Linked DNA regions of Homo sapiens: regions 2, 3, 4, 5, 6 and 7 are each linked to region 1. Evidence: fine-mapped expression QTL. A gene starts in region 1. Each other region holds a variant in brackets. All regions are shown on one strand. Distances are from middle to middle. Region 1 holds the start of SDCBP2-AS1 (SDCBP2 antisense RNA 1). Region 2 has its middle 42 kb from the start of SLC52A3. Region 3 overlaps FKBP1A (FKBP prolyl isomerase 1A). Region 4 overlaps FKBP1A (FKBP prolyl isomerase 1A). Region 5 overlaps FKBP1A-SDCBP2 (FKBP1A-SDCBP2 readthrough (NMD candidate)). Region 6 overlaps SNPH (syntaphilin). Region 7 overlaps FKBP1A (FKBP prolyl isomerase 1A).

What was found. PIP is the estimated chance that this variant, and not a neighbour inherited with it, causes the effect. A credible set is the group of variants that fine-mapping cannot tell apart.
Region 2: its variant is the best candidate, but not a certain one, in a credible set for the expression of SDCBP2-AS1 in esophagus mucosa (GTEx, PIP 0.81).
Region 3: its variant is the best candidate, but not a certain one, in a credible set for the expression of SDCBP2-AS1 in whole blood (Lepik 2017, PIP 0.50).
Region 4: its variant is the best candidate, but not a certain one, in a credible set for the expression of SDCBP2-AS1 in whole blood (TOPMed, PIP 0.69).
Region 5: its variant is fine-mapped to the expression of SDCBP2-AS1 in whole blood (INTERVAL, PIP 0.92).
Region 6: its variant is the best candidate, but not a certain one, in a credible set for the expression of SDCBP2-AS1 in whole blood (INTERVAL, PIP 0.61).
Region 7: its variant is fine-mapped to the expression of SDCBP2-AS1 in caudate (GTEx, PIP 0.93).

What each region holds. Positions count from the first base shown.
Region 1 is chr20:1,322,992-1,327,058 of GRCh38, forward strand. It overlaps SDCBP2-AS1 (SDCBP2 antisense RNA 1), which reads left to right and starts at 2,352. Exons shown (of 3, transcript NR_040049.1): 1 at 2,352-2,538. The region is part of intron 1 of SDCBP2 (syndecan binding protein 2); the gene reads right to left. The region is part of intron 2 of FKBP1A-SDCBP2 (FKBP1A-SDCBP2 readthrough (NMD candidate)); the gene reads right to left. LOC124904856 (a long non-coding RNA gene) reads left to right here. Exons shown (of 2, transcript XR_007067487.1): 2 at 875-1,378. RefSeq lists enhancers at 2,414-2,643, 2,634-2,928.
Region 2 is chr20:724,006-728,072 of GRCh38, forward strand. No RefSeq gene overlaps it. Among named protein-coding and RNA genes, the nearest start is that of SLC52A3, 42 kb to the right of the region's middle. The variant T/G (reference allele first, on the strand shown) is at 1,758.
Region 3 is chr20:1,382,044-1,386,110 of GRCh38, forward strand. All of the region lies in intron 2 of FKBP1A (FKBP prolyl isomerase 1A), which reads right to left. All of the region lies in intron 2 of FKBP1A-SDCBP2 (FKBP1A-SDCBP2 readthrough (NMD candidate)), which reads right to left. Among named protein-coding and RNA genes, the nearest start is that of MIR6869, 8.9 kb to the right of the region's middle. The variant G/A (reference allele first, on the strand shown) is at 1,834.
Region 4 is chr20:1,376,245-1,380,311 of GRCh38, forward strand. All of the region lies in intron 2 of FKBP1A (FKBP prolyl isomerase 1A), which reads right to left. The region is part of intron 2 of FKBP1A-SDCBP2 (FKBP1A-SDCBP2 readthrough (NMD candidate)); the gene reads right to left. It overlaps SDCBP2-AS1 (SDCBP2 antisense RNA 1), which reads left to right. Exons shown (of 3, transcript NR_040049.1): 3 at 554-2,491. Among named protein-coding and RNA genes, the nearest start is that of MIR6869, 15 kb to the right of the region's middle. RefSeq lists an enhancer at 1,145-2,344. The variant C/T (reference allele first, on the strand shown) is at 1,863.
Region 5 is chr20:1,357,025-1,361,091 of GRCh38, forward strand. All of the region lies in intron 2 of FKBP1A-SDCBP2 (FKBP1A-SDCBP2 readthrough (NMD candidate)), which reads right to left. All of the region lies in intron 1 of SDCBP2-AS1 (SDCBP2 antisense RNA 1), which reads left to right. Among named protein-coding and RNA genes, the nearest start is that of SDCBP2, 30 kb to the left of the region's middle. The variant C/T (reference allele first, on the strand shown) is at 2,355.
Region 6 is chr20:1,288,068-1,292,134 of GRCh38, forward strand. All of the region lies in intron 2 of SNPH (syntaphilin), which reads left to right. Among named protein-coding and RNA genes, the nearest start is that of SNPH, 24 kb to the left of the region's middle. The variant G/A (reference allele first, on the strand shown) is at 2,074.
Region 7 is chr20:1,365,688-1,369,747 of GRCh38, forward strand. It overlaps FKBP1A (FKBP prolyl isomerase 1A), which reads right to left. Exons shown (of 5, transcript NM_000801.5): 5 at 3,291-4,060. All of the region lies in intron 2 of FKBP1A-SDCBP2 (FKBP1A-SDCBP2 readthrough (NMD candidate)), which reads right to left. All of the region lies in intron 1 of SDCBP2-AS1 (SDCBP2 antisense RNA 1), which reads left to right. Among named protein-coding and RNA genes, the nearest start is that of MIR6869, 25 kb to the right of the region's middle. The variant T/G (reference allele first, on the strand shown) is at 2,095.

The sequences.
Region 1 (4,067 bases):
ATGGCAACACTCACCCGGCTGAGTCACAGCCTACCTCGCAAATGGGGCTGTACGTGCTTTCCTGTTTCCGCAAGTACCCATCAGCCCTTCACTGATTTACGTTGCCTGCTTGGTTCCTGGAGGCAGCCAGTTCCAGACCCTGCCCTAGCCTGGCCTTTGGGGTAGAAATGACCATCCCAACAGGACAGGAATTTCCTGGGAGGGGAGGGAGTCTGGCTCTGACTTCCTTTAGACCACCTGGGGGAAGAGACCCCTTTGCTTATAGCCTTCCCCACTGTGTACACACACTATGAGATTTTTAATCTTGGGACAGTCCTGAGCAGCTATCATCTGCCAAAACATGACCTGCCACCAGGACCACGCATGAACAGCAGATGCGAAAATAAGCAGCCACTCCTGCCCTGATTTTCCTAACATTTAACCAGTAGAGCACTTATATTTTTGTCAGCTGTCCCCTGGGAGAGCAGGGAGTCAGAGATCCATTTCCTGGAAATCACTCCCGGGCCAGATCACATAACCCTTTTTCTGTGTCTGAGATCCTTTCACCACTGCCACCTTCTCTGGATCCCATCTTAGTGCTGGGATGCGGGGAAGTGAGAAAACAGGTACAGTCGTTCCTTGGGGTAGGTTCCAGGACAATGCCCCTCACTCCCCATCCCTCGGATACCAACATCCACAGCTGCTTATGTCCCTTACATAAAGTGGCATAATATTTGCATATAACTTATGCACATTCTTCTGTATACTTTAAATCATCTCTAGATTACTTACAATACCTAATGCAATGTAAATGCTAAACAAAGTTATATTTTATTTTTATTTGAATTTTTGTTGTTTTTTTTAATTTTTATTTTTAAATATTTTCTGTCTACAGTTGGTTGGATCCATGGATGTGAAACCTGGGGATAGGAAAGGCATACTGTATCCCCTGCCTTGTAGCAGCTCACAATATAATGGGGAATGGTTCCCTGCCAGCGAACATGCTGTGTTTCGTTCAATCATTCAAAACATTTGAGTGTCCACTGTGTGCCAGACGTGCTGGTCCCTCTGCTGTGCACATCATCCTCCTTGGTGTGATGCTCCTTCGAGGCTCAGTTCAGATGCTACTTCTCTGCTTGGCTTTTCCAGACTGCATGATACCCAGGCTGCCTGGCTGGGTCTTCCCATGTATTCCACCCCTGACCTGTACTGCCCCTGTTGCCAAGCTATTTATCAAATTATGTGATTAATATCTGGGTATTTTCTTACACTGGACCTCACTCATAAGGGCAGGAGCTCTGTCCCGTTCACACACGATCCTTCCCCGCCACGGCACTGCCCAGCACACATATGCTAGCAAAAATTATTTGACTGAATAAATCAGTGGTTTTCCAAGGAACAGATTGGAAATTTATGTGGGCATTTTTGGGTGTCACGAGACTGAGGGGACAGTCATATCCCTGTCGGGGGTGGGGGGGGCAGGGATATGAAACTCCTGTAATGGATGGGACAGTCCATTACAGTCACCATAACAAATGGTCCTGTCCCGCACAACTTTCAGATATCCTGCCAAACTTTCAAGTAAGCCAAAAATCCGTTATAATTGGTTGTACATACAATCACAATGAATTTTTCCCTAGTTTTAGTACACACTAGACTGTCTGGAAATGCATATATCAGGTTGGTTGTGGGGAGTTACACTTTGCTCACCATTCTGGAAAATCGCTGCCCACCCTGCTCCCCACGGGTGAGTCACCCGAACAGCATGCTCACGTCTGTGTACATGTGTAGCTGTCACAGTGACTCCGCGCTTTTATATAAATATATTTAGCCTTTGACTCAAGATGTCAGATATAAACTGTTGGCAAAATTCAGCTGAATATTGTCTTCTAGTAAACCTAAGCTGATTCCTAAGTTGGGTACAAGCGTGATCGGGTGTAAGCCAGCCTCAGCTTTTACAAAGTGAAATGCATATTCTTTTATTAGAAATTACTTTCATGTCCCTGCCTTCTCCTTATAAACAAAGGGCATCATATTGATTTTTTACCCGGGGAACCATCACCTGGGCTGCAGCCTCAGGACGAACCTGTGCCTTCCCTCTGTCTCAATTTCCTGCTTTGGGAAATAGGAGCCACAAGCCACAAACTCCATCCACCGCGCCACAGGAGCGAGGTCCAACGCAACGGTCCCTAGGGCCTGCCTCCAACCCAGCCTCAGTTTCCTATCTGTCACATCGTTCTATGATCTCGAAATGACTATAACCCCTTTCTTAGCCCCAAACCAGCCGGAAGCGACATCTTCCGGTTGCTACAGGTTACGGCGGTTGCTATGGGCTACGGCGCCTGCGCAGAAACACCGCCAAGCGACTCAGCAACTTCTAGAGCGCATGCGTTTCGCCCACCCAGGCCCGGGCGCGGTTAGGGGTGACTCCCACGATCCCTAGCGGCTGCAGAGTGGAACATGGCGGCCTCCTTGCCGCTTGCGTTACCAGAGTCCACCCGGCCTCGTGCTTTCTCCGGGCGCCCGTAGCTGGCGCCGGCATCCACAAAAATAGATCAGGTAAAGCAGCAGAGTAAGGCATAGGAAGACTTGGTCGGGCTCCGCGGCCCCTCTTTACCGGATTGGAGGCTGCGCGGGTGAAATCGAGCTTTAAACTCCCCTGGCCTCGGAACACCATTTGTAGCCTCTGAAGGAGGAGGACTTATAAGATTCTGTACTAAGGCAGCCGTGGGAAGGGAGGAGAACCAGGTCGGCCCGCGCGCTCCCGGCTGCTTTTGCTCTCCCTTTGGTTTCGAAAGCGTCAAGTCCCAAGGTATTTCCTACCAATTGTGACGTCACCCTTCCTCCCCCGTTTCTCACCCGTTTCTTGTCTGGCCGTGACTTCTGACCCAGTGTTGAGCTAAAAATGCCCCGCCCCACCCTACGCAGATTCACCCCGCGTCCCACCCACCAGTGACTGAGTGACTGGGCTTCTGCTGCCTAGGGAAGGGTTCTTGGCTTGGCCGGGCAAATCAATTCCCACAGCAAAATCAGACCGAAAGCCTGTTATGAGGGACTCAGGCAGTTGGATGTGGCGTATAGGAGGAAGGCTAGGGCAATCAGGAAGGTCTCCTGGAGGAAGGAAGAAGACCCTGACTGGGCCGTGTAGGATGGATGTTCAAGTGGGAAGAGAGTGTGCTATTCCAGGGACAGGGAGGCCCAGGCCTGAGAGTCCAGTTGCCTTCTGGATCCCGTTTACCTCGCAGATTATCCAAACTGGACTCGTGATTTTCCCCAGCTGTGCCGCGCCTCCCCAGCGGTCTCACTGAATCCACCCATGGGCTATGTCAGAAATCTGGGAGTTATCCTCAGCTCCTCCCTTTCCCTTCTGAAGCCATACCTACTTCTTGCCCTCAAATCTCTGTGACCTGACTTCTGGTAATGTTTCCATTCTCACCATCTCATTCTTCTCCACACTTATCATGAAGTTCATTTATTCCAGACTACTTTAGGTTGAGTCCTAAAAGTCAGCCTGCTAGTTCATGCCTCCATGCTTTTGCAGGTGCTATTCCCTCTGTCTTAAGAGTCATTCATGCCTTCTCTCTTTTCCTTGTTGTGAACTCTTTTTCCTCCAATTTAAAGCTTTCCCCCACCTGTACGCATGGAGATTGGCAAGCCTCCCTTCTCTAGACGACAGCATTTCTTGTATTTGCCTCTTCATCATATATTCCACAAGTGTTTGTTAATCACCTACTATGAGCAAGGCCTTCTGCATTTCCTAGGTTGGATTTCCACTGTGCTGTGTTTGTTTGCTCATCTCCCTCACTGGTCAGGAAATGTCACTCATTTGTTAACCCCCAGTGCTGAGCACAGTGCCTGGCACACAACAGGCATCCCATTACTATTTCTGAAAGGAGTGGAAAAGCAGGCACAGAGAGAAGAGAAAGCCTGATATCCTAAATATACAGTCTTTCTTCCCATGCCTGTCTGTGTTTGCAGTCAATAAGTAGAAAGTCTTTCGAAGAATAACCTGGGCCTGGAAAAGGAGAGAAACCATGGCCCTAACGAGTTAGGTTGAAAGGCTGCCTGGCTCCTATAATCTGACAGTG
Region 2 (4,067 bases), 600 kb before region 1:
CTCTCCTGGCGCCTCATTTGGCAGAGCTGTGCATCTGGCCCAGTTACTGTGGTAGCCTTGGAAGGCAGAGTGCTCTGGGGCTTCCTTGTCATCTACCTGCGTGACCCTGCATGAAGGGTATGCCCAGCCCTCAGCTGGACTGCCAGCCCCACAGGCACCCTTGGTGCCCACCACACAGCAGGAGCTCATCCACAGATGGGCACAAATAGTGATACCAGACAGTGCCTCTGAGTCCTTGCTGTGCTAGGCACTGTTCTAAGTGCAAATTCCGTTCATCTTCACAGCAACCCTTGCAGTGGGGGCTGTTAACCCCATTTTAGAGATGAGCAAACTGAAACACAGAAAAGCATAGGAAATTGCCCAAAGTTGAATGAATGAATGAATGAATACAATGACAACTTAGGAAGGAAGGCATTTTACTGAAGAGTGACAGGCCCACGGTCACACAGATAGTAAGTGGAAAAAAATCAGGGCTGGAACTCATGACTCCAACATCACCTCCCACCTGTCCATAAGCCCAGTGACAGCAAGGCTGGCACTCCCTCACACTTGGGGTTGAGGCCAGTAAGAGCTGCATTTGTGGAACACTGGCCAAAGCAAACCCTCTGTGCTGAGGGCACTTCAGCCAGTGTCTCAAGCCTGTCTGCACTTCTTCTTTTTTTTTTTTTTGAGACAGACTCTCACTCTGTTGCCCAGGCTGGAGTGCAGTGGCGCAATCTCGGCTCACTGAAACCTCTGCCTCCCCGGTTCAAGCCATTCTCCTGCCTCAGCCTCCTGAGTAGCTGGGATTACAGGCACGTGCCACCATGCCCGGCTAATTTTTGTATTTTTAGTAGAGATGGCATTTTGCCATGTTGGCCAGGCTGGTCTCAAACTCCTGACCTCAGGTGATCTGCCTGCCTTGGCCTCCCAAAGTGCTGGGATTACAGGCGTGAGACACCATGCCCAGTCAACTGAAGTTCTTTGAGAGTACTGTTCCCATTTTCCAGATGAGGAGCCTGAGGCCCAGCGAAGGCGAGCAACATGGCCAAGGTCACACAGCCAGTAGGTGTGATTCCAAAGTCCCACTTTCTGTCTTCCATCAGGTAGTACTATCTGCCTTCCACTATGGAGGGAATGTCCCATTGGGAGACGCCTAGGATGGGGGCTAAAGAAAGACAGGCAGGCCCGACACCAGCCTCTCTCTCTTCTGTCTGCTGTCAACACTATATCTTGGTGCCATTCTGCCCACTATTTGTAGAGAGGCCTGGGTACCAGCCTCTTCACTTTGTCCTGGAGGCCAGGCCAGGCAAGGATCACTGTACCCACTTTTCTTTCCTTCCTTCCTTCCCTCCCTCCCTCTCTTTCTGCCTTTTTATTAAGGTATAAACCACACAAAATAAAGTACATAGAGCCAGGTGTGGTGGCTCACGCCTGTAATCCCAGCACTTTGGGAGGCCGAGGGACCCCCCAGCCAAAGCCTGGAGCTCAGAACACAAATGCTCCCCTTGTTGAGAGTGGGGAAAAAAATCTCTTTTCAGGTGCCAGCCTTAAAAAGAAAGAACAAAAAAGGTAACTCACAGATGACCGTGATATGTGACGTGCATCTGAGCCCTTCACACAACCACAGAACTAACTGTCTGCAGCTGCCACAACAGCTGACCCCTCTGCCAGGCAGAGTTTGCTATCAACCAGTAACAGCTCCCAGAGGTTTTGTTATCCCTCTGTAGAAATGGAGGCTTGAGGCCAGGTGCAGTGGCTCATGCCTGTAATCCCAG[T/G]ACTTTGGGAGGCTGAGGCAGGCGGATAACCTGAGGTCGGGAGTTCGAGATCAGCCTGACCACTATGGAGAAACCCTGTTTCTACTAAAAACAAAAAATTAGCCAGGCGTGGTGGCGCATGCCTGTAATCCCAGCTACCAGGGAGGCTGAGGCAGGAGAATCACTTGAACCTGGGAGGCGGAGGTTGTGGTGAGCCGAGATCGTGCCATTGCACTCCAGCCTGGGCAACAAGAGCGAAAGTCCATCTCAAAAAAAAAAAAAAAAAAAAAAAAAGAAATGAAGTCTTGATTGACTGAAGTAGGAGGAGCCAGCGCACAGGCTTTGGAGGCAGAAGAGCTGGGACCAGCTCTGGAGGTTTGGGAACATGACTCCACCTCCCCGAGCCTCGTACTGCTGACCAGATTGCTTTTGCAAGCATTGTACTACATCTTCACACAATGCTGGGAGGCAGCTGTTACCAACCCCATCTTACAGCCGGAGACCCTGAGGCTCAGGGAGGTAAGGGATGTGTGCAGAGACATGCACAAAGTGGAAAAATGTGAAAACAGACCTCATCGTGCAGTGTTATTGTGCAATTTGAATTGAATGAGGGATAAGAATGTGAATGGATGCAGTCCACAGTAGGTGCTTAAGTCTTGCATGGGGTCTAATAGCCGGTGAGTGGCAAAAGGAGAACTTGTACCCAGATCTGCCTCACCCCAGAGCCCACCTCTGAGCCTCTTCATCCATGGGAAGCCATCATCAGCATGGTGCCTGGCACCGAGTGAGCCTTTGAGAAAGGGTAACTGGGTCAAAAATTATTTTCAGAAAGTTGAAAACATGGATCTTATACAAATGTATAGTGAGCACATGTCAAAGTGTTATTTAACTCATTAAGGATGGAACCGGTAGGATGGCAAAGCTGACTCAAAGGAGGATAAAATGGCAAAGTTAGCTACGACATAGGTTAATGTCTTACAGGGCACCAAAACCATAAGCTTTAGCGTTATTTCTTCTACAGGTCAGAAATCATTTGCAACTCGTGCACTTTTTACAAGTTACCAGGTAACTTTGCTTAGGATCAGGTGACCCAGGCTCATCGGACACTGCCTTCGCTTGATATTGAAAGGGCACACAGACACCCTTTTTGTCTTATTTCCAAGTTTTGGATATTTTTTCTTTACAGTTATTATCATTCCACTTCTCTCTGACGAAAGGCTGTTCACAGGCCTCACAGGTTCCCAGGAGCCCAGGGACACGCAGACCCCACCCCACCCATTCACACAAGGACTCAAGGACAGAGCCTCTACCCACAGATGAACTTGGGTGGTGCACAGGCACACGAGCTTGATGGCAGGGCACGCCCAGGCTGAAGGGGCCGGGTGGGAGCTAAAACGTGTGGTCTATGGTAGCCCAGCCTCTTTCCTCAGCAACCACGCCATGAAAAGATCCCTACATTATTTGTCAGGTAAAATAAAGCGACCCGTAGCTAGTGGCGCGAGATTCTATCCAGCTTAATACGTGTGTATGTGCAGACACATTTATGAGTGTGCATGCAGAGAAAACTCTCTGGGGAAATACCCCCTGAACTGACAGCCATGGGGAGTGAGGGTGAAGCGGAAACAATCTTGTAAAAGAAATTCAAAAACCGAAGCCCACTGCATTGTTTAAATTGGTTACGTCCAACTTGTTTTCCTGTGTTATCTGTCGCCTGTTAATACACACACACAAACACACACATAATAGAATGGGATAGAATATCTATATATATCTAATATATATAATATCTAATATATATAATATCTAATATATATAATATCTAATATATATAATATCTAATATATATAATATATATATAGAGAGAGAGAGAGAGCGAGAGAGAGAGAGAGAGGGAGAGACGGAGTTTCGCTCTTGTTGCCCAGACTGGAGTGCAATGGCGCGATCTCGGCTCACCGCAACCTCCGCCTCCCGGCTTCAAGCGATTCTCCTGCCTCAGCCTCCCGAGTAGCTGGGATTACAGGCGTGCGCCACCACGCCTGGCTAAATTTTTTTTTTTTTTTTTTAATTTTTAGTAGAGACGGGGTTTCTCCGTGTTGGCCAGGCTGGTCTCGATCTCCCGACCTCAGGTGATCCGCCCGCCTCGACCTCCCAAAGTGCTGGGATTACAGGCGGGAGCCACCGCGCCCGGCGGGATATTATATTTCCATAAGGCCCTCCGGGGGCCTGGGAACGGACTGGTGCTTGCGTGCGGGGCTTTTCCACTGGTTCCCTTCCGTACTCGGGCTTCCCCCGCTGTTGTTACTCCCTCAACGGGAACACAACTCCACCGCC
Region 3 (4,067 bases), 59 kb after region 1:
GAGTAGGCAGTGGCATTTACTAAAATGCTATATATGTTTAGCTCCCACATACACACTGGCAATGAATGAAAAGTGCTTCCTCTCTTTGGGGAGGGAACAGGTAAAGCAGGCAGCAAGTCAAGTCTCAGCAGCTGCTCCAATTTTAACTCTGGAGATCACTTGTGCCAGGAGCTGGAGCCCTTGAACAGTGAAACCACCTGCCAAGTTAGTGCCATAATTTCCTAAAGAAAGCGTGCCCTGCTCAGAGAAGGCAACTGAGGTTACAGTGCAGACAAGACAGCTGACAGTCTTTAAGCTCTAAAGGCCACTCAGCATAAAACATCACAAGCATTGCCTTCTAATTGCAGAACTGACCAATTTCATTCCTGGCCGTACAAGCCTATAACTCATGCCTAACAAACTGCCTGGAATAGCTCCATATTCTTATTTTAAGTATTTAGTCTTGGCTCTCCTGACTGAATGCAGCCCAAGCTCACAGACCTGGCCTGCGTTCTGTGTCCTGGTGGCACGTATGGTGCTGGTACTCAAGAGCACTCTTGGATTTGCTTTACTTGCATGATTTTTAAGAACCAGAAGGACAAGCATGAGGCCTTCATATTTAGACCTTCTTCCCTATATGGTAACAAGAATATGAGGGGTAATCCCAGAATGGTAAACTTTACTTTAAGCACCTTTAGTTACTAATCAGTAAGAAAAATGTGAAAATGTGCTCCAGTTAAAAGCACAAGACCATGAAAGAAGCCAAAGCTATGACTGACTGCATGCAGAGGCTGTTGACGTCATCTTCGCCTGGGTCTCCTCCTGAACTGAAATCCTTGGAAAGGGAGCAAAAGGGTTTACAAAACAAGACGGTGCAGAGAGTCTCAAGTCTGTCTACTCCACAGCAGCCTGCTCTTTCCTGTTGCTTTTCAAGGAATCAGCAGAGGGAGACCTGGCCAGCAGCTCCTGGGCAGCAAAGTATCCCCAGACTGTGTTCCTGGTGGTTGGCTCAAGCCACTGAAGCGGTGGTTAAGACTCAAGACCAGGACCTGGAGATTCACAAGGACCACTGGGATACTATTTCACTAATAACCCAATAGAAATGGAGTCACTTCCAAGGCACTCTGCTTTGGGGAAGGGCAGAGTGCCATATACCTTCTACTGGGTAACAGGACTGAAGAAGGCACCTCTACAGACTTATGGCTTCACTACTTGTAGTGAAAGCTCATGACTCACAATGCAGTTTATAGTTGCTCATGAATCTTTGCAGGAGTGTTTCCTATAGGCAGCATTTTACAGGGACAAAATATGGGAAGTTTTAAGATTAAAAAAAAAAAAATGACTAAACTAAACCAAAAATCAAACATAACAAAAAACCAGAATATCCTAAGCCCCAAACCTTCAAAATAAAATAAAGTCCTTGCCATTTACAGTTTGGAGAGGGAAAAGGATTTCTACTTTCAACACGCAGGTGAGTTTCTTAATGACAAAAAGTACAATGAGGCCAGCTGCGGAGGAGGCTCATGCCTGTAATCCCAGTGCTTTGGAAGGCCAAGGCAGGAGAATCACTTGAGGCCAGGAGTTTGAGACTGGCATGAGTTTGCAACCAGCCTGGGCAACACAGCAAGACTCATGTCCCCAATCCTGTTTCTGCAAAAAATTAAAAAAAAAAAAAAAAAAATTTAGCCAGACATGGTCCTAGCTACTTGAGTGGATCAAGTGGGAGATCACTTGAGCCCAGAGGTTTGAGGTTGCAGTGAGCTATGACCGCACAAGTACACTCCAGACTGGGCAACAGAACGAGACTCTGTCTCTTAAAAAAAAAAAAAAAGGTGTAATGGTTGAATGGGTGGA[G/A]GTAGGGGGAGCCAGTATTTTTCTGCAGCTTTGCATTTGAAGCCACTCAGAACATTCCCAGATGGGCGTATGGCTCAAGGTCTAATGGTTTAGCTGTTTGCTTTCCCTCTTCTTATTAGACACAGAAGTTCTCTTAACCACCTTTTACTCAGCTGCCTTACTTGGAGACTCATAAAACTCACAGCCTTCGTACCCCAGCATAGTGAAGAGCACTCCCCTCATGCTTTAGTCTCTAGCTCATGATCACTTCTTCATTCCCATATGAGTTCTGTGTTCACAAAGGGAGGAGTGGTTAGCTGTGTTTGTCCCCAAATCCATTTATGGTAGCTATATTTACTGTGTAAATATAATGTAATTAAATAGTATGTAAATCAATAAAATGAGTGTGAATACAAACAGCGGTTCTAGCTGACTCCTGGGAAAGACTCAATAAAGGCAAGTCACTAAAAAACTATTGCTAGTGAATAATCATATGGGAGACTACATTTAGAGAAAGAAATCTTAAAAATCTGGAAAGGTTTGGTTTTTAAATGTTCTCACAATACTCTTTGCTCTACTTTAAAAAAGGTCAAATTGGTTTTTGCAAGAACTATGATGGGAAACTCCACTAGCAGAGCCATCCTCAAAGATAAAGACATAGTCCTTTAGCAAATGATTTATGTTAGAGTTTGAAATCAAATGTTTACAGAAGCCATGTCACTTTTATGTTAGCATACCAACTACCCACTTGTCTCAATCATGATGGGTAAAAAGGGATTCTACATTTAGATAGGCAAAAGATACAAATTCAAATCTTACATTCTTATTATTCCATTTCTGGGTCTCTGTGGCTGTATTCCAGCACAACCTCCCTGAAGTGGGGTTCTGAGAACTCCTTATGAGTGAGGGGTATGACCAAAGGTCCAAGTGCCAACCCAAAGAGGGAACCAGCTCACTCTCACTATCATTTTCCTGAGATCACCAACAGTGCAAGCACATTTCCCATACGCAGTATGGAAATGCTTCTAACCTTTGGCTAAATCCCTTTAGATCCTATAACCAAAAGTGTATTTTCAAAGGCAGGGCCCATGATGGGAAGAATATGCAGGATCCAACGGCAATAAAAAGAACACAGACCAGAATGCATGCCCTGTGGGTGTGTCTCTCCATTTTCCACTTTAATCACAGTATAAATAAGAGGAGTTACTACCACATTATATCGCATGGGGAGGGGGAGAAAGAAATACCACTAGGCCGGGTGCAGTGGCTCACGCCTGTAATCCTAGCACTTTGGGAGGCTGAGGCAGGTGGACTGCCTGAGCTTCGGAGTTTGAGACCAGCCTGGGCAACATGGTGAAACCCTGTATCTACTAAAATACAAAAAATCAGCCGGGCATGGTGGCGTGCGCCTGTAGTCCCAGCTACTTGGGAGGCTGAGGCAGGAGAACTGCTTGAACCCGGGAGGCAGAGGTTGCAGTGAGCCGAGATTGCACCAGGGCACTCCAGCCTGGGCGACAGAGTGAGACTCCATCTCCAAAAAAATCAAAAGAAATACCACTTAACAATAGCTAGCTGGAAGTGGTAGAAATATGCATTTTCTATAGGGTATAATGGTTAAAGGCATGAGTTCTGGACCTCTGTTACAGACTATTATTACAACTCCCTCCCTGGTCTCCCTGCTTCTGCTCTTGCTCTCCTACAGTCTAAACCTGACACAGCAGCCAGACCCTACTACCCCTCGGCTGAAAAACTCCTGTGACTCCCCCATCTCAGGAGATAAAACTCTTAAAATGGCCTACAAGACCCTCTAAGAAGTGTCAAGCCTCCGCCCCTACCACCATCCCTCTGACTTCACCTCTGATTACTCTTGTACTTTTCCAGTCCCAGAACATTGTTTCCTTATGTTCTACATACACACCAGGGATACCTCCACCCGTGGGCCTTTGCATTTGCTGTTCTCTCTGCCTAAAATGATCTTGCTCAAACAGTCACATAGGTTACATCCTTACCTCCTTCAAGTCTTTGCTCAAATGTCACTTTCTCATTGAGGCCTTTGCCAATCTATCTAAAACCTCAACCTTTTCCTATTCCCTCCTTAACACTTACTAGCTTATACACAACAGTCTTGCTTATTAATCATATTTATTATGTCTTTTCCACTACAGTGTGAGATGAAGGCAGGAACTGTGTCTTCTTCACTCCTAAATTCTTGGTAGCCAGGACAGTGTCTTGTACATAGCAGACATTCATCAAGT
Region 4 (4,067 bases), 53 kb after region 1:
TCACACCAACAGGGAACCTGGGGCGTAAAGCTGGCCCCTTGTAGGCTGGTTCCTGAGTTGTCATAATTTTCCTGGGAAAGTAAAAACCAACCTAGGCTGAAATAGAGAAATGAAAGAAAGAATTTGTGCAGCATTCATCCCACTTATTTTATCCAATGCTGCCCCACAAAACAACCCATGCTCATTTTTGCACAGCTAATACTTTGTAACAGAGATGACTGAAGAGAACAGGAATACTAAGGAGGTTGCAGTGGTGGCCCTTCAAGAATTAACTCAGTAAACCCAGCCAACTGCTAGCAACTCTGTGGCCAGTGGTTCCACTCTGAGTTACTCTAAATGGGCTAGGTGCTTTCCACACATGAACGAATGCAATTCTTTCTCCACAGCACTATCCCCATTTCACAGATGAAGAAACTGAGGCAGACAGGGAGAAGTGAAAATAGTAAATAGTAAAATTTACTATTATAAAAATAGTAAATTTATAATTTAGTAAAATAGTAAAACTACGTTATAAATTATAAACCCAAATACCATGCTCTTTCTATTATTCCAGTTTCCCAGAAGCTGGACAAGCCACGACGGCGCCTTCCAATAAAAGGGGAACTCCAGAGACGCTATGAGAAAAGAGGAACAGACATCTGCAATAGATATCTGCAACTTCCTTTTCAAAAACACCATCGGCATTGCTTTCTCAGGAAGCCACTGCCAGCCTATTGTGATAGCTGACACTGAGTTCCTGAGAATTCTCTAATTAGGATCCCAGATTGGAGGGTCAGCCAGTGGTTAACATATAATGGACACAAAACTGATTTTACTGGAAGACTGAGGGTGGGCACTCACCATGGTTCTAAGCATTCATTACTCAGAAGATCCATAAAAACATTACAGTTCTGTTGTGTAAGAGTTTAGGAAAAAAAGAAAATCCTGACAAAAATCCCAACCTAAAAAACAGTGTCAACATTTGTAAGTAGGATGGGGAGGCAGAGATGAATTGGCAGTGTTATCACAGCTACTGGACTATGTGGACTTTAACAAAGTAAGAAACGGGTGGGGGTTGGGTGGTGGTATCTTAATAGAGCAGGAGTAGAGACGGATGTCCTGGGGCAGAATGGGTACCAATGCTGCCTGAAGCCTGGAGCTGGGAGCTGAGGACTAAGAGGTAGACAGGAGGGTGGGGACCGGTACCTGCTCCAAGGAACTGGTGCCCCAGAACTGGTGAGCTGGGGTATGCATTTAGCTCATTCGTTTACCAGAATGCAGTCACCACCTGATGAAAGAAATGACTAATGGCAGGACTTGAACAGTTCTCTATAAATGAGTACCTGGGAGAAAAACAGGTCTCCAGGCTCCACAATACCCAATAAACACACTGCCTTTAGCCCACTTCAAGCTGCACTTCTTACATGGAACCCAACCCAACCAACCTCAGAGGTAAGGGTGAGAGCAGGCAATGAACAGCTATGATTCTCCATTCCCTGGCCAGGCAGGGAGCCTTTCCATCCACCCTCGTGAGACTGCTTGTAACAGAAATAAGGAAACCGACTCCAAGGCTCAGTAACCCACCCAAGGTCAGAACCACGGAGTGGCAGGGCCTGTGAGCCACAAAGGAGACTGAAAACCAGAAAGAGCTTCTCTCTGGTCTGTTATTTTAAGAAAAACATGCCCAGAGGGGCCACCTGGAAGCAAGGCTGTGTGGCACCCTCACCTTCCTAATTAAACAACAACTTCCCAGGAGCAACGACAGCAACAACAGCCTGGCCCAGCAGATGAACTCGAATCAATCCAAGCCCTTCCCCTATACGGGTCAGTTTGGGCACTACTTTACCTGCTGTGAAGTCTACTGGGATCTTCCAGGAAAGTCC[C/T]ACCTCATTAGTAAAAAGAAAAACAAAGACTCGGGAAGAAAGTTCCTGCCCTCCCTGTTGAATGCTGTGTGAGGATAAGATGTCTGGAGCATGGCAGTCACCCTGTGACTATCAGAAGGCCAGGCGTACCACAAGGTGGTCATTCCAGTGCTCTGAATCAGCCCCAAACCACTTCCCTCAAGACTCATGTTCTGAGGTGATTAAAAGTGTGCTTTGAAGGTAAATCTAGGATGACAGTCAACAGATCAGTGATTGCCAGGAGTCAGGGGTAGAGGGAGGGAAGAACAGATGGAGCACAGAGAATTTTTAGGGCAGTGAAAATGTTCTGTATGATACTATATATAATGGATACATGCCATTATACACTTGTCCAAATGCACAGAATGTACACCACCAAGAGTGAACCCTAATGTAAACTATGGACTTTGGGTGATCATGATGTGTCAATGCAGGTTCGTCAATTGCAACACACGTACCATTCTAGTGGGGGGTGTTGATAACAGGAGGCTATGCATGTGTGGGACCAGGGGATATATGGGAAATCTCTGTACATGCCTCTCAATTTTGCTGAGAATCTGAAACTGCTCTTAATGAAGTCTTACAAAAATAAAGAAGTCTGCTTTGCCTTAGGTTGGGTCTTCAGTTACCTGCAGCCAAATGAACACAACTGGCGTGAGGTAAACCTCTGACACTTAGTGAGCACGCTACAATGTAGTGCTGCCACGAAAGGAATAACAAAGAAACAGAACTCAACAACTAAAACCACAAAGAACTATCCCTGATCCGCGACAATGGGAACAGTGTCTCATGTCAGGACCCAGTACACACCCACATTTTGTCTGTGTATAAACAAAATTTACATGTAAGTTACTACATGGCATATACTTCTCATTTTTAAAAAGAATGCTGATTGTGACCCACTACATTTATTTCATGATGCATTAATGGTTCATAACCCACAATTTGGAAAGTACGGTATACCTATAAAAAATTAGCCTTATTTCTTGCCAAACTTGAACACGGCTCTGACCTGTGCAAGATCGTATTTTGATTGCAGTGAAAGCCACAGGGTACTGAGACAGACTCCCTAAACTTCCTTTTTATTCCTGATCAAATGCAATGCCAAGCAACCTCCAGACACTACATGCATCAATGTATCAATGTTGCTTTGCCTGAGGTGAGATACTTCAACTATCTATCTGACTGGTACCAGGCTAGGAGCACTAGGCAGGACACAGCCTGAATCTGCTGCTGCTGCTGCTGCTGAGCCAGCATGGAGATGTGTATGTTCTTCAGTGGCTCTATGTGAGGATGCCTGTCTAACCCCAGCTCTCCTGAGCCTATCTTGGACACTGAGGGGCAAACCTCTCCCTAGTATCTTAAAACCATAAAAGCCAGGAAGCAGGATTTCTAAGTAAAGGAGCTTTAAACAGGACCTTTGCCTAGGATCTTAATTTTCCTATGCTATTTTGGATGCTCTGTTGTCCCTGGGAAAGGGGCATGAGACTTGCTCCAGAATTTCAGACCACAGTCACCAACTGTCAATCTCATCTACTTTCTAAGGAGAAATCTTCGCAGGGCAGGGTTGGGTGGTGGCAGTGATGTTGGGGTTCCTTGAGTCCAAGGAGAGGATTTCCCATAATCGAGTCCGAAAGCTAAACAATAATCCCCCGAAATGGGTGGGGTGGTATGTGATTAAGTGGGTGTCACACAACTGGCACAAGCTACAGGACAAGGAGAAGGAGGGCTTCCCCAGTGGGGAGGAACAGGCCACTTATCTATGGCCCTAAGTTGTCAGCCTGGGGGAGAAGGTGGAAGCAGTGTTTGTTAAGCTGGAATGAGTGTGCATGTGTAGGAATTATGCTGTTCAGTCTGTAATGTCAAAACAGATAGTGAGAACTTCCATTTCTGGTCACGGTGGAGGACAAGGATCAGATTTGTTCATGAAACAACCAACAACCAACCAACCAACCCCTTCCTCCCTACAAAAAGTCCACTAAAACCTAAAAACCACCTAGACAAAATAGCTACAACGATGGTTTGTAGGACACCAGACATCTGTAATGAAGAACAATAAATCCTGAGACATGGGAAACAAGGGCAGCCCTATATCCTTGGGAGTTTCCAGGGAGAGGGACCTGGAGTGGAGCTCAAGGCACCTAGAGTCCATAGGACACAGTACCAGCAGGAGAGAGCTATACAGAG
Region 5 (4,067 bases), 34 kb after region 1:
AGCTATTCACGATGCTGAGGTGGAAGGATCGCTTGAGCCCAAGAGGTGGAGCTTGCAGGTGAGCTGAGATCACGCCACAGCGCTCCAGCCTGGGTGACAGAGACAAACCCTGTCTCAAAAGAAATAAGTTAATAAATAAAAAATAAAATAGGCTGGGCACAGTGGCTCACACCTGTAATCCCAGCGCTTTGGGAGGCTGAGGCAGGCAGACTGCTTGAGCACAAGAGTTTGAGAGCAGCCTGGGCAATGTAGTGAGACCCTGTCTCTATTTTTTTAAAAATGATTTAAAATAAAATAAATCTTCCATTTGGGGTTTCTTTTTCTTTTTTTTTCTTTTTTTAAGATGGAGTTTCACTCTTTGTTGTCCAGGCTGGAGTGCAATGGCACAATCTTGACTCACCACAACCTCCGCCTCCCGGGTTTAAGCGATTCTCCTGCCTCAGCCTCCCAAGAAGCTGGGATTACAGGTGCACGCCACCACGCCCAGCTAATTTTGTATTTTTAGCACAGACGGGGTTTCTCCATGTTGGTCAGGCTGGTCTCAAACTCCTGACCTCAGGTGATCCGCCCACCTTGGGCTCCCAAAATGCTGGGATTACAGGCATGAGCCACCGCACCCGGCTGGGGTTTCTTTGTATCTTTTATTTATTGAACCTTTGTTTTTTGAGTGTTCATAGTTTCTTGTTAAAAGTGTTTTTGTTTGTTTTTTAATGATAGCTGCTTTAAAAATCCTTGCCAGACAATCCCAACATCAGTACCATCTTGGTATTGGCATCTGTTGATTGCCTGTTCTCATTCTGGTTGACTTTTTCTGTTTTCTGACATGACAAGTAATATTCAATATTATCAGTACTTTGGGTATTATGAAACTCTGATTCCTTTTTATATTTTCTACTTTAGCATGCATTCAACCTGCTTCAATTCAGAATGCACATCATGACTCACTTCTGTGGTCTGTGAGTTTGAATGTCAGTTTGGTTTCAAATTCAGCGTTATCTTGGTCTGCTCTGCCTGTGTGCTACCCAGAGACCAGTGGATACCCAGAAACCCGAGTGGTATTCCACAGCATAGCTCAGTTCTTAAAGCTTTTGCTGTGTTAATTCTGATGAGTTTCACACATAGGCCACTTGGGGATGTGCACAAATTGAAAGACGCTTTTTCCGCAGCTCCCTCCTCTCTGTTATTCTGCCCACACTCTCTGTGAGGGGGTAGGTGCTGCCTCTGTTACTGCAGGACAGGTGGTAGTCAACAGGGCTCTACCCTAGAGTGTCCATAGCATCCCATGGGAAGAAGGAGGAGGGAGGGGGTGTCACCTCTTATCCCATTAGTGCAGGATGGGGCTCATTAATAGAGCTCCACTTGTCTCCAGAATCACTGGTGAGGAAGGGGAGTGTTGCCCCCACATTCGTGCACAGCAGGGATGGTTCACCGAACTCCACACCAGTCTCTGCAGAGCCTGTTGGGGAGAGGAGGGCTGTGGTTTCTTTGATGGTGTTCACCTGGAGTAGAGCAAGTATTGTCAAAAGGGTCATCCTCGGAGGTTGCAGTGAGCCGAGATCGCACCATTGCACTGCAGCCTGGGAGACAGAGCAAGACTCCATCTCAAAAAAAAAAAAAAAAAAAAAGGCCATCCTTCATTACTGTCCTCTTCTAGGTCCTTTGACTAGAGAAAGCATTTTCCTTAGGACTTTTGTTGTCTGTGCTTGTTGGTCATTTCAGATTGTGCCTTCCTCTAGTGCCCAGGTTGAAATACGTGAACACTACGAAAGCCTCTGGGAACTCCCTGCCAGGTCATCCCTTGAGACTTAAGTTTCCTTGCCAGTCTGCCTAGTTTACTTCACCTTTAGAGGTTTCTGATAGTTGCTTTATGTATTTTGTCTAGTTTTTAGTTGTAATTAGCAGAAGGAATAGGGTGGAGTCCACTTACTTTATCTTGTGTGAACATGGAAGCCCCATGTATTTTTTAAATAAACTTTTTGAGGTGTAATTTACATGAAATAAAATGTACCCATTTAAAGTATACATTTCCATGAGATTGACAAATGTGTATATCCATGTAACCCTAACCACAATCAAGATATAGAACACTCCCATTACCCCAAAAGGTTCCCTTTGTCTTCCTTCCTAGTCAGTTTCCTCCATCCTGAGCCTCAGACCTGGCCTGATTTCTGCCAGTGTAAGTTGAACTTGTCTTTTCTAGAGTTCCATATGAAGAAAATCACATAGAACGTAATGTTTGTAAAAGTCTGGGCCGGGCACGGTGGCTCACGCCTGTAATCCCAGCACTTTTGGAGGCCAAGGTGGGTGGATCACAAGGTCAGGAGATCGAGACCATCCTGGCCAACATGGTGAAA[C/T]TCCATCTCTACTAAAAATACAAAAATTAGCTGGGCATGGTGGCACATGCCTGTAATCCCAGCTACTCAGGAGGCTGAGGCAGGAGAATCGCTTGAACCAGGGAGTCGGAGGTTGCAATGAGCCGAGATCGCGCCACAGCGCTCCAGCCTGGTGACAGAGTGAGCTTCCGTCTCAAAAAAAAAAAAAAGTCTGGTTCCTTTTACTTATTATAATATCTGTGAGATTCATCCATATTGTTGGCATTTCAGTAGTTCATTCCTTTTTATGTTTGTTTTTGCTTTCATTTGAATTGTCACTATCCTATGCTCTTGCCTGACAGACCCTGAGAGCCTACTGACCACAGCAGCTCCTGTTACCACGGCTGCCGTTTCTGCTCTCAATGCTACTGCTCATTGATCCCAGGGAGGAAAATTCTGGTGCATCACTTAGTATTTATTTCAGGTATGGTTAGGACATTTCAGAATAAAGGATGGCTTCTTCTGGATGTATCTGAATTGATCTGCTGTCATATACTTATGAATCACATGCTCAGACCAAAGTACATAAAAAAGTCATTCTCTTTCCAGACAATTTTAGGGGTTTGTAACCTTGGTCTTATATTGCTCCATGGCCTATGAATTAGTAACAGGACTAGTGAAATTCCTAGTAACATAGTCCTGTTACTACAAGATTACCCATATCCTTTGATGATCCATCTACTGCAAACTCATAGAATTTACTGGACAGTCTTCTTCATTTTATGTAAGAATGACCACTGTATCATCATATGTCAATGTCCTGCATAACTGTCACCACCCCTCCATGCCGAATACCTGGTAGCTTGTGATGAGTTGAGAACCTCACTAAACAGTCTTATCCACATCCTCAGGTTCTCTGAGGTTTTCCTTCTGTCCAGTCCATGCACTTGTACCCCTGGTGGTCGAAGTACAGTCACGCACTGCGTATGATGTTCTCATCAGTGGTGGGCTGCATACACAGCAGTGGTCCCATAAAACCATAATGAAGCTCAAAAATTCCTATTGCCAACTGGCATAACGTCATGTAGTGACACATGACCTTTTCTATGTTTAGATCTGTTCAGATACACAAATCCTTACCACTGTATTCCAATTGCCTGTAGTATTCAACAGTCACTGTACAAACCTGCTGTATAGTTTTGTAGCCTAGGAGCTACAGGTTGTACCGTATAGCCTAGGTGTGTGGTAGGTAGGCTATACTATACAGATTTGTGTAAGTATACTCTATGATGTTCACACAATGGTGAAATCTCCTAATGACACATTTCTCAGAATGTCTCCCCATCACTTTGGCCAGCTGACTCAGTTTGTGATGGCAATTGTGAGACCAGTTGAAGGGCGATCTGACCTGTATATTCTCTTGGTTAATTGTATTTACAAATTGGATACATGATTTCTCTGATTGCTCTCTTCACAAACTACATTTGAATATACAAATGAAGTGCTAAGTGGTTTTTATACAGGGAAACAAAGCCAGTTTTGTTTTCTACCAATGCAAGTTTGGATAAATTCTTTTCAAGAAGATGACTAAATATTTCCCATTTAGCAAAGTCCTCAGATAAAGAGATGCCAGGTATTTCTCGTTATGTTGGTTTCTGTATTACTATCTGTTCAGACACAAGCGTCCTTAAAAATGTGCTTAGTTGTAATTTCTTCATAGATTTCAACCAAAACAACATATTGCAAGATTGAATG
Region 6 (4,067 bases), 35 kb before region 1:
CCTGCCAGACATTGCCCTGGAAAGCCAGCCCAGGTCACTTGGCCTAGCAGAGTTTGCCAGTCATTTCAGAGTCACTCATGCCTGGGCCTGCTGATGTCCGCTGAGGTGATAAAGCAAGAATTATTTCTGAAGAAGGGAAAAAGAGAGATCTCCTTCGACAGGTAATAGTGATAGCAAGAAATGTTCAGTCCTCTAATTTCCCAAGAACTACCCCCATCCCTCCATTCATTACCTTGGTTGGATCCCAAAGAGACAGCAGGGCCAGGAAGGTGGCGCCTTCCTGAGTGAATGCATGAGACAGCTGAGACGAACAGAGGTCAAAGACCCAAGGTCACCAAGATGGACGATGTGATATGGCTCAGAGGAGCTGAGGGTCTCTCAGTGGTGGGCTTGCACAGCAGCTGGGCTGCTGGGTGGGACGCAGCAGTTGTTGGAAGAGGAAAGAGCAGTGCTCCTCATGGAAAGGGCTTCTCCTTTGCCTGCGAGGCTGATTCTTAGAGGAACAGGGAAAGTCACTAGTTAGGGAGAAGGCACATGAGGAATTTCTTTTTCTTTTTTTCTTTTTTTTTTTGAGATGGAGTCTCCACTCTGTCGCCCAGGCTGGAGTGCAATGTCGTGATCTCGGCTGACTACAACCTCTGCCTCCCAGGCTCAAGATATTCTCCTGTCTCAGCATCCCGAGTAACTGAGATTACAGGCACCCACCACCTCGTCCAGCTAATTTTTCTATTTTTAATAGAGACAGGTTTTTGCCATGTTGGCCAGGCTGGTCTTGAAATCCTGACCTCAGGTGATCCGCCCACCTCGGCCTCCCAAAGTGCTGGGATTACAGGTGTGAGCCACCGTGTCTGGCCAAGAATTTCTTTTTAAACGACTCTCTGTAGTATGCTTACCTCTTATGTCTGTGATGCCCTGCTTTTATGGAAGTATGACCAGCCCAAAATGCAGGTATATACCTGCTCATCTCCATTGTGGTATCTTAGAGTCTCATGGAAAAGTAGGTTTTTTCTTTTATGCAGCAGAATGATAAGTGTCCCAGGTCTACTGTATTATGAGACCTTCATGATGCAGTAGAAATGCAGGTGCCCATGACCTGGAAATCCAGGGTCCAGCCCTTGGTGACTCTTGTAACCTCTGAGGCTTCAGGTTTCCCATAGATCAGATGGACTAGTCTCTACCTGGCCTCCCTCTATGGGGAATTTGTGTGAGGATTCAACGAAGTTGTGAATATGCAAGAGCTTTAGGGGCAGCCTCAGCTACCAGTCTCCTCCAGGCTGACCCAAAGTCTAGGGAAGCATCCTGGGCCCAGCTACCTGAAGTCAGGTAGAGGGGGGGCACTGGCTCTTGCTCCCCTTCTGCTGCAACTTGCTGAGCCATTCTGGAAGAGTCTCTACCCCTTTCTGGACCATGCCTGTCTTTTTATTAATGCAACGGTTCATTTAAATACACACACACACACACACACACACACACACACACACACACACACAATGGAGTCAGGGGCATGGTGGCTCACACCTGTAATCCCAGCAACTCAGGAGGTGACGCTGGTGGATGGCTTGAGGCCAGGAGATTGAGACCACCAAGAGCAACATAGTGAGACCCCACCTTTAAAAAAAGTAAAAAATAGATTAGCCAGGTGAGGTGGCTACTGGAAAGGCTGAGGCAGAAGGATCGCATGAGCTCAGGAGTTTGAGGCTGCAGTGAGCTATGATTTTGTCACTGCACTCCAAGCCTAGGTGACAGAGTAAGACCCTGGCTCTAAAAAAAAATTAAATATATATCACATGTATTTTTAAAAATTTGTTTTTTATTGAGATATAATTTACATTCCATAAAATTTATCCTTTTAATAGCCAGATGCAGTGGCTCACACCTGTAATCCCAGCACTTTGGGAGCAGGGAGGCCAAGGTGGGTGGATTGCTTGAGGCCAGGGGTTCAAGACCAACCTGGCCAATATGGAGAAACCCCATCTCTACTAAAATATACAAAAATTAGCCAGGTGTGGTTGTGCGTGCCTGTAATCCCAGCTACTCGATAGGGTGAGTCATGAGAATCACTTGAACCCGGGA[G/A]GCGGAGGTTGCAGTGAGCTGAGATCGTGCCACTGCACTCTAGCCTGGGCGACACAGTGAGACTCTGTCTCAAAAAAAAAAAAATTAAGTTTTTAAAATGTACAATTCAGGGATTTTAGGATACTCACAAAATTATATAACCATCACCACTAGCTACTTCTAAAACGTTTTTTATCTTCCCAAAAAAGAAACTCCATTCCCATTACCAGTCATTCCCTGTTCCTTCTTCCCTTCCAGTGTGTTTTCTGTCTGTGTGCATTTGCCTGTGCTGGATATTTCATATAAATGGAATCATGCAATATGCGGCCTTTCGTATCTGGCTTCTTTCATTTAGCATAATGTTGTCAAGGTTCATCTGTGTTGTAGCATGGATCAGTAATACTTCATTCCTTTTATAGCTAAATATTCCATTGCATAGACGCATCACATTTTGTTTATCCATTCTTCTATTGGTGGACATTTGGGTTATTTCCACCTCTTAGCTATTAAGAATAGTGCTACTGTGAAGTACACTTCTTATACAAGTTTTTGTTTGAGCATCTATTTTCCATTCTTTGGGGTATATACCTAGCAGTGGAATTGCTGGTTCTTATGGCAATTCTATGTTTAACTTTTCGAGGAACCACCAAACTGTTTTCCATAGCAGCAGCGTCATTTTACATCCCCACCAGCAATACATGAGAGTTCCAACTTCTCCACATCCTTGACAACGCTTGTTATTGTCCATCTTTTTTATGCTAGCCATCCTAGTGAATGTGAAACAATATCTCATTGTGGAAAATAAGTATTCCATAGATTTTTAACCTGAAAAATCCTTTTTAAAAAGTAGTCTTACTTCACACCTTCCATATGTAAAACACATACGAGAGGAGCCTCTTCAGGTGAAATGGGGGAGGAGGCCCAAGCCACCCCTCCCAGTAGGTGCAGAGGCAAGTCCTCTTGGGTGGTTTGAAGACCTAGGCTTGATGCCCTTCAGCTCTGGAATCTGAGTCTAATCACTGGAGACACATCCTGTGTAGCAGCTGCCTCAGCCCTCAACCTATGCTGGTTGCCTGGGGAAGCTTCTCACAGCATTTGGCCAAGTTGTGGGTCTGCCTTGCCGCTGTGTTGGGGTTGCCACAACAGTGAGAAGAAGTCGGATGGCGCCTCATGTGTGGTCCCAGCTTTGAGGGTGGCTTGTGTGGGAAACAGGAAGCAAGCTGGAGAAATGCCAGCAAGTCCTGGAAGGAAGATCCTAGGTTTTGTTGACAAAGGAGGAGCAGAGGCACATAGTGGCTGATGAGGCCATAGCCAGTGCAGGGTTTACTGAACTCCTCAGCTGTGAATAGCCCTGGTAGTGCTAATCTTCTGAGATCTAGAGTGTGGCTGCTGGAACACTCCCAGGCCTGTCTTCTATTCCCACCTCTCTGCATTAGCATTCTAGGAGCACCAGGCACTCTGCTGTCTGATGGGTGGAATGTTCTGCGTTCTAGTGTTACCTTGGCAAAGAGAGGATCCCTCCCAAGTTCTGCTCTGTTGATTGCAATGCTCTGCTTTCCACAGCTGTCAGTGGTTTGAGTCATCAGACACAGATTGTTCTGTTCCCTCGGATTTTAGGATAGCTTTCTTCTTGTATCAATGGCTAATTCTTTGAAAGAAGATAAATTATAGTACATACAGGGACTTTTGCTTAGCTGGAATATTAGATTAACCCAAGCACCTGGTTTTTCCCCCATGACTGTTGATTGGGGAAAATGCTATCATGTCTCTTTGAAGAATGGAGCTTCCTAATTTTACATATGTGGAAACTGAGACCCGAAAGTCCTAGTAATGAAGGAGAAAGAAGCATCAATTAGAAGCCCATAATTTCATTGACAGCTCTAGAATTAGAGAATGTTAGATCCAGAGCACCTTAGAGACCATCTAATCTGACTCTTTGGTCTATTCAATGTGCTTGTTTAAACCATTGTATTACCAACAGTTGTGTGTTGATTGTGTTTGTTTTTATGAAGTTT
Region 7 (4,060 bases), 43 kb after region 1:
AGGGCAGAAAGAGAGAGAGGGCTGGAGGCCAATAGGTGGCTGAACTCATTTTTTTATGAGGAACCCACTCCCATAATAACAGCATTAATCCACTCATGAGAGCAGAGCCCCCATGACCCAACCATTTCCCATTAGGTCCTACCTCCCCACACCCACTGCACTGGGGATCAAGTTTCCAACACATGGAACTTTGGGAGACACATTCACGACATAGCAGAGGACCACTGGAGAAAGGAAGGTTTTTAAAGATTTTTTTTAGGACACTATGGAAGTGATAGCCATTGGACATGGATGGTGTTTTTGTTTTTGGCATGGGAAAAGGCTTATACAACTCTGGTCAACTTGGCAACACTAATCAAAAGTCAAAATCTCCTTTGACCCTAGGGATCCCCTACTATTAACAGTATTATATCTTATAGAACCTAGGTATTTAGGAAAGAAAAAAATGTTCAAAGATGTATTGACATTTAATAAAAGCAAATAACTGGACATAACCCAGCTATCCAAATACAGGCTATCAGGAAACACTGTGAAGGACTTTGAAATAGGTCTTGCCCACTGCCCCCACCCCTGCCTCCAATTACTGAGTGTTCTGTCTAATCTAGCCCACCTTTCTGAGTTGATTCCCTTTCATTTCACTGCCTTTGAGCTACTTTACAATTACGTAAATTAAGGGAAACTGATAATGCAGATGATTCTTGTTCATAGAAATGCAAATTGTGACCAATGGAATATAACTGATTATTGTTCTGCAGGTATCAGCCAATTTTGCCAGTTTTGTAACTACGAAGCAAACTCATTTCAGCATTCCTGCTAGGCTTATAATTATTTGTTCTTTGGATTCTCCTTTGAGCCAATTAAAGTGTCCTACTGGTTCTCTCAATAATTAACAAGTTAAATACAATCATCTTTAACATGTTACTTTTATATTTGTATGAGTCATAATTTTAACTTCTAAAAAAATTATCCTTTAACAAGGTAGTTAAGTAAATTTAATGTTCATGTGGTATAATTTACTTAGCAGCCCTCTTAAAACAGTTATAAAAACCATATGGCAACAGGGACAAATACTCCTGATAAAAATGGCAAGTGGGGAAAAAAGCAGAAATGCAAAATTTGTACTACGTTGTGATTAAAGCTAAACGTTGTAAGTGCTTAGGGCAAGAAATAGGAAGGAGAAAAAAAATTGAAGTTGGATTTGTTTGTTAGGGTGGTAGGATCCTGGATTAAAAAAAAAAAACAAAACCCTGACATTATTCTGTTATACATTAAAAATAATATTGGCGGGCATGGTGGCTCACGCCTGTAATCCCAGCACTTTGGGAGGCCAAGGCAGGCGGATCACGAGGTCAGGAGATCGAGACCATCCTGCTAACACGGTGAAACCTCATCTCTACTTAAAATACAAAAAATTAGCCAGGCGTGGTGGCACGTGCCTGTAGTCCCAGCTACCAGGGAGGCTGAGGCAGGAGAATCACTTGAACCTGGGAGGCGGAGGTTGCAGTAAGCCGAGATCACGCTACCGCACTCCAGCCTGGGATACAGAGTGAGACTCCATCTCGGGAAAAAAAAAAAAAGTTGGCCCTGTATTAGTTTCCTATTGTTGCTGTTAACAAATGGTTTAAAGCAACACTAACTTATCACCTTAGTAATAAATTCTGCAGTTCTGGAGGTCAGAAGTCCAAAGTGGGCATCACAGGGCTAAAATTAAGGTATGGGTGGGGCTGTGTTCCTTTCAGGAGTCCTAGGGGAAAATCCGTTTCCTTGCCCTTTCCAGCGTCTAGAGGCTGCCAGCATTCCTTGGCTTGTTGCTCTCCTTCCTCCATCTTCAAAGCCAATAGCTTAGCATCCTCAAAAGTCTGTCCACCCTCACGTCGCCTTCACTGATGCTTATATGGATCCATGTGCTTACACTGCATCCGCCCAGGTAAATACAGATAATCCTCCTATCTCAGGGTCCTTACCTAACCACATCTGCAGAGTCCCTTTTGCCATGTAAGGTGACACATTCACAGGTCCTGGGGATTAGGATGTGGACATCTCTGAGGACTCCCATCCCCAATCCAGAGGATTTCCCTGAAATGCCAAGTTCAG[T/G]GAGAACAGCTTCCCATATGCCTGAGTGAAGGCACAATACTGACTGTGCGAAAGGACATAGTGTGGGACTCCATTTAAATTAAATGTCAGAACAGGCAACACTAGCCTATGGTGGAAAAGAATTACAATTACCACCTCCAAGGGCGGGGTGGGGTTGACTGGGGAAGGCCATATTGGAATTTTCTGGTATGGTGATGTTCTTTATCCTGGCAGGGGCACAAAAGTGTAAACAAACACTACTCTCTAGTCTAGTCAATGACACGTACTGGGGGAATTGTAGTGATGTCTGCCATTTACTCTGAAGAGACATAATGGATAGTTTGATGGACAGATGGATAGACAGGTGATATATAGATACAGTAACATGTTTATGATAGAATCTAGGTGGTGGGTATACAGGTGTTCATTTTAATCATCTTTGTGTTGTTTGAGAATTTTTATAAAAATGTTGGGGATGGTAAGATGTGACCCTGGAATATGACTCTGGCACTCTAAAAACCATAAATTAACAAAAAGAACTTAGAAAGCCATTAAGCAAGCTGTTGAATAATTTCCTTTTTAAAATCAATGGTTCTCAACCTGGGCAATTTTGGAAGGTGTCTAGAAAGGTGTGGGAGCATTCTTGACGGTCTCTAGAACTCTCAGTAAGGGCAAAGTGTTCCTGGCACCCAGGGCAGGGTCCAGAGAAGCTACTGCAACCACGCAGCCTCTCCACAGGACTGTCTTTCTACATTAAATGTTACTGAGGAATACCAATTTAAAATCAGAGTCTTCTCTTCGTATCTCATTAATTTGCTTGCAGTTGCTTGTAGCACATCTCCAAGTGGACTGTGACTCACTTCTCAAAAATGTGTTGTATCTCCCACTTTTCTGTAACCCAAGAACCCCGAGCATAGTGCTCTACCCAGAACACATATTTAATAAACATTTGGTAACAGGGGAGGGGATGTTCCCTGACTATCCCAGCTTGCCCTTTCAGGCAGCTCCTTTGATGCAAACCTACCCCACATTCCCCCTCCTCTGACCCCCAACCCGTTAATAGCCAGTGAGGAAGGATGTTCACTGCTGCATTCTTCTGCCAAGACACAATCTTGAAACTGCATCCCCACTGCCACCCTCCTTCACCCTGCCCAACCCCATCCCCCTGCACCAAATGGCAGGGGAGGCACCTGAAAATAACCACCATGACACAGAGCTGAGAAAAGCCGGCATAAAGCACTTTTATTGCAATAATAAAACTTGAGACTCATAAATGGTGCTGGGGGAAGGGTGCAGCAACGATTTCTCACCAAATCACTACACAGGACAGCAAAGGGGTGAGAAGGGGCTGAGGGAGGAAAAGCCAGGAAACTGAGATCAGCAGAGGGAGCCAAGCATCAAAAAACAGGAGATGCTGAAGCTGCGATGACCAGCATCATTTTCTTAAGAGAACATTCAAGGATTTGTCATGATGGCTGGGCTTTCACTGGGTGTTAAGTCTACAAACAGCACCTTCAATTGAAACTGTCAATTAAAGTTCTTAAGATTTAGGAAGTGGTGGAGCTTGGAAAGTTATGAGATTACAAAATTCCTGAAAGTCCATTAGAAAAACCACAGGATGAAAAAAAAAAAAGGCCACAAAGAAGGCTTCAGAGGTCCCTGCTGGCCCAGGGACAGATACCTGTAGTGTCCAGCATTGCAGTGAACATGATCTACTTTCAAAGGCAGAGGGTTTAAGGGGAGGGTGGGTGGGAATGGTGGAGGCAAAGGCTCTCCCCATCCCCACCTCAGTTTTAGGTAGGGCTTTTAATTTAACCCAAAGACATCTCTCAACTTGGAGAGTAATTCAGTCCTCAACAGCGCCTCAAATCTGCTATGGCTTTGCAGCGCAGCAGCAAGAATGTTTAATATATAATAGATAAAAATTTCATCCAAAAAATTAAAATAAAATATTCTTGCAAACCCCCCCCCCAACACCAATTCCTAT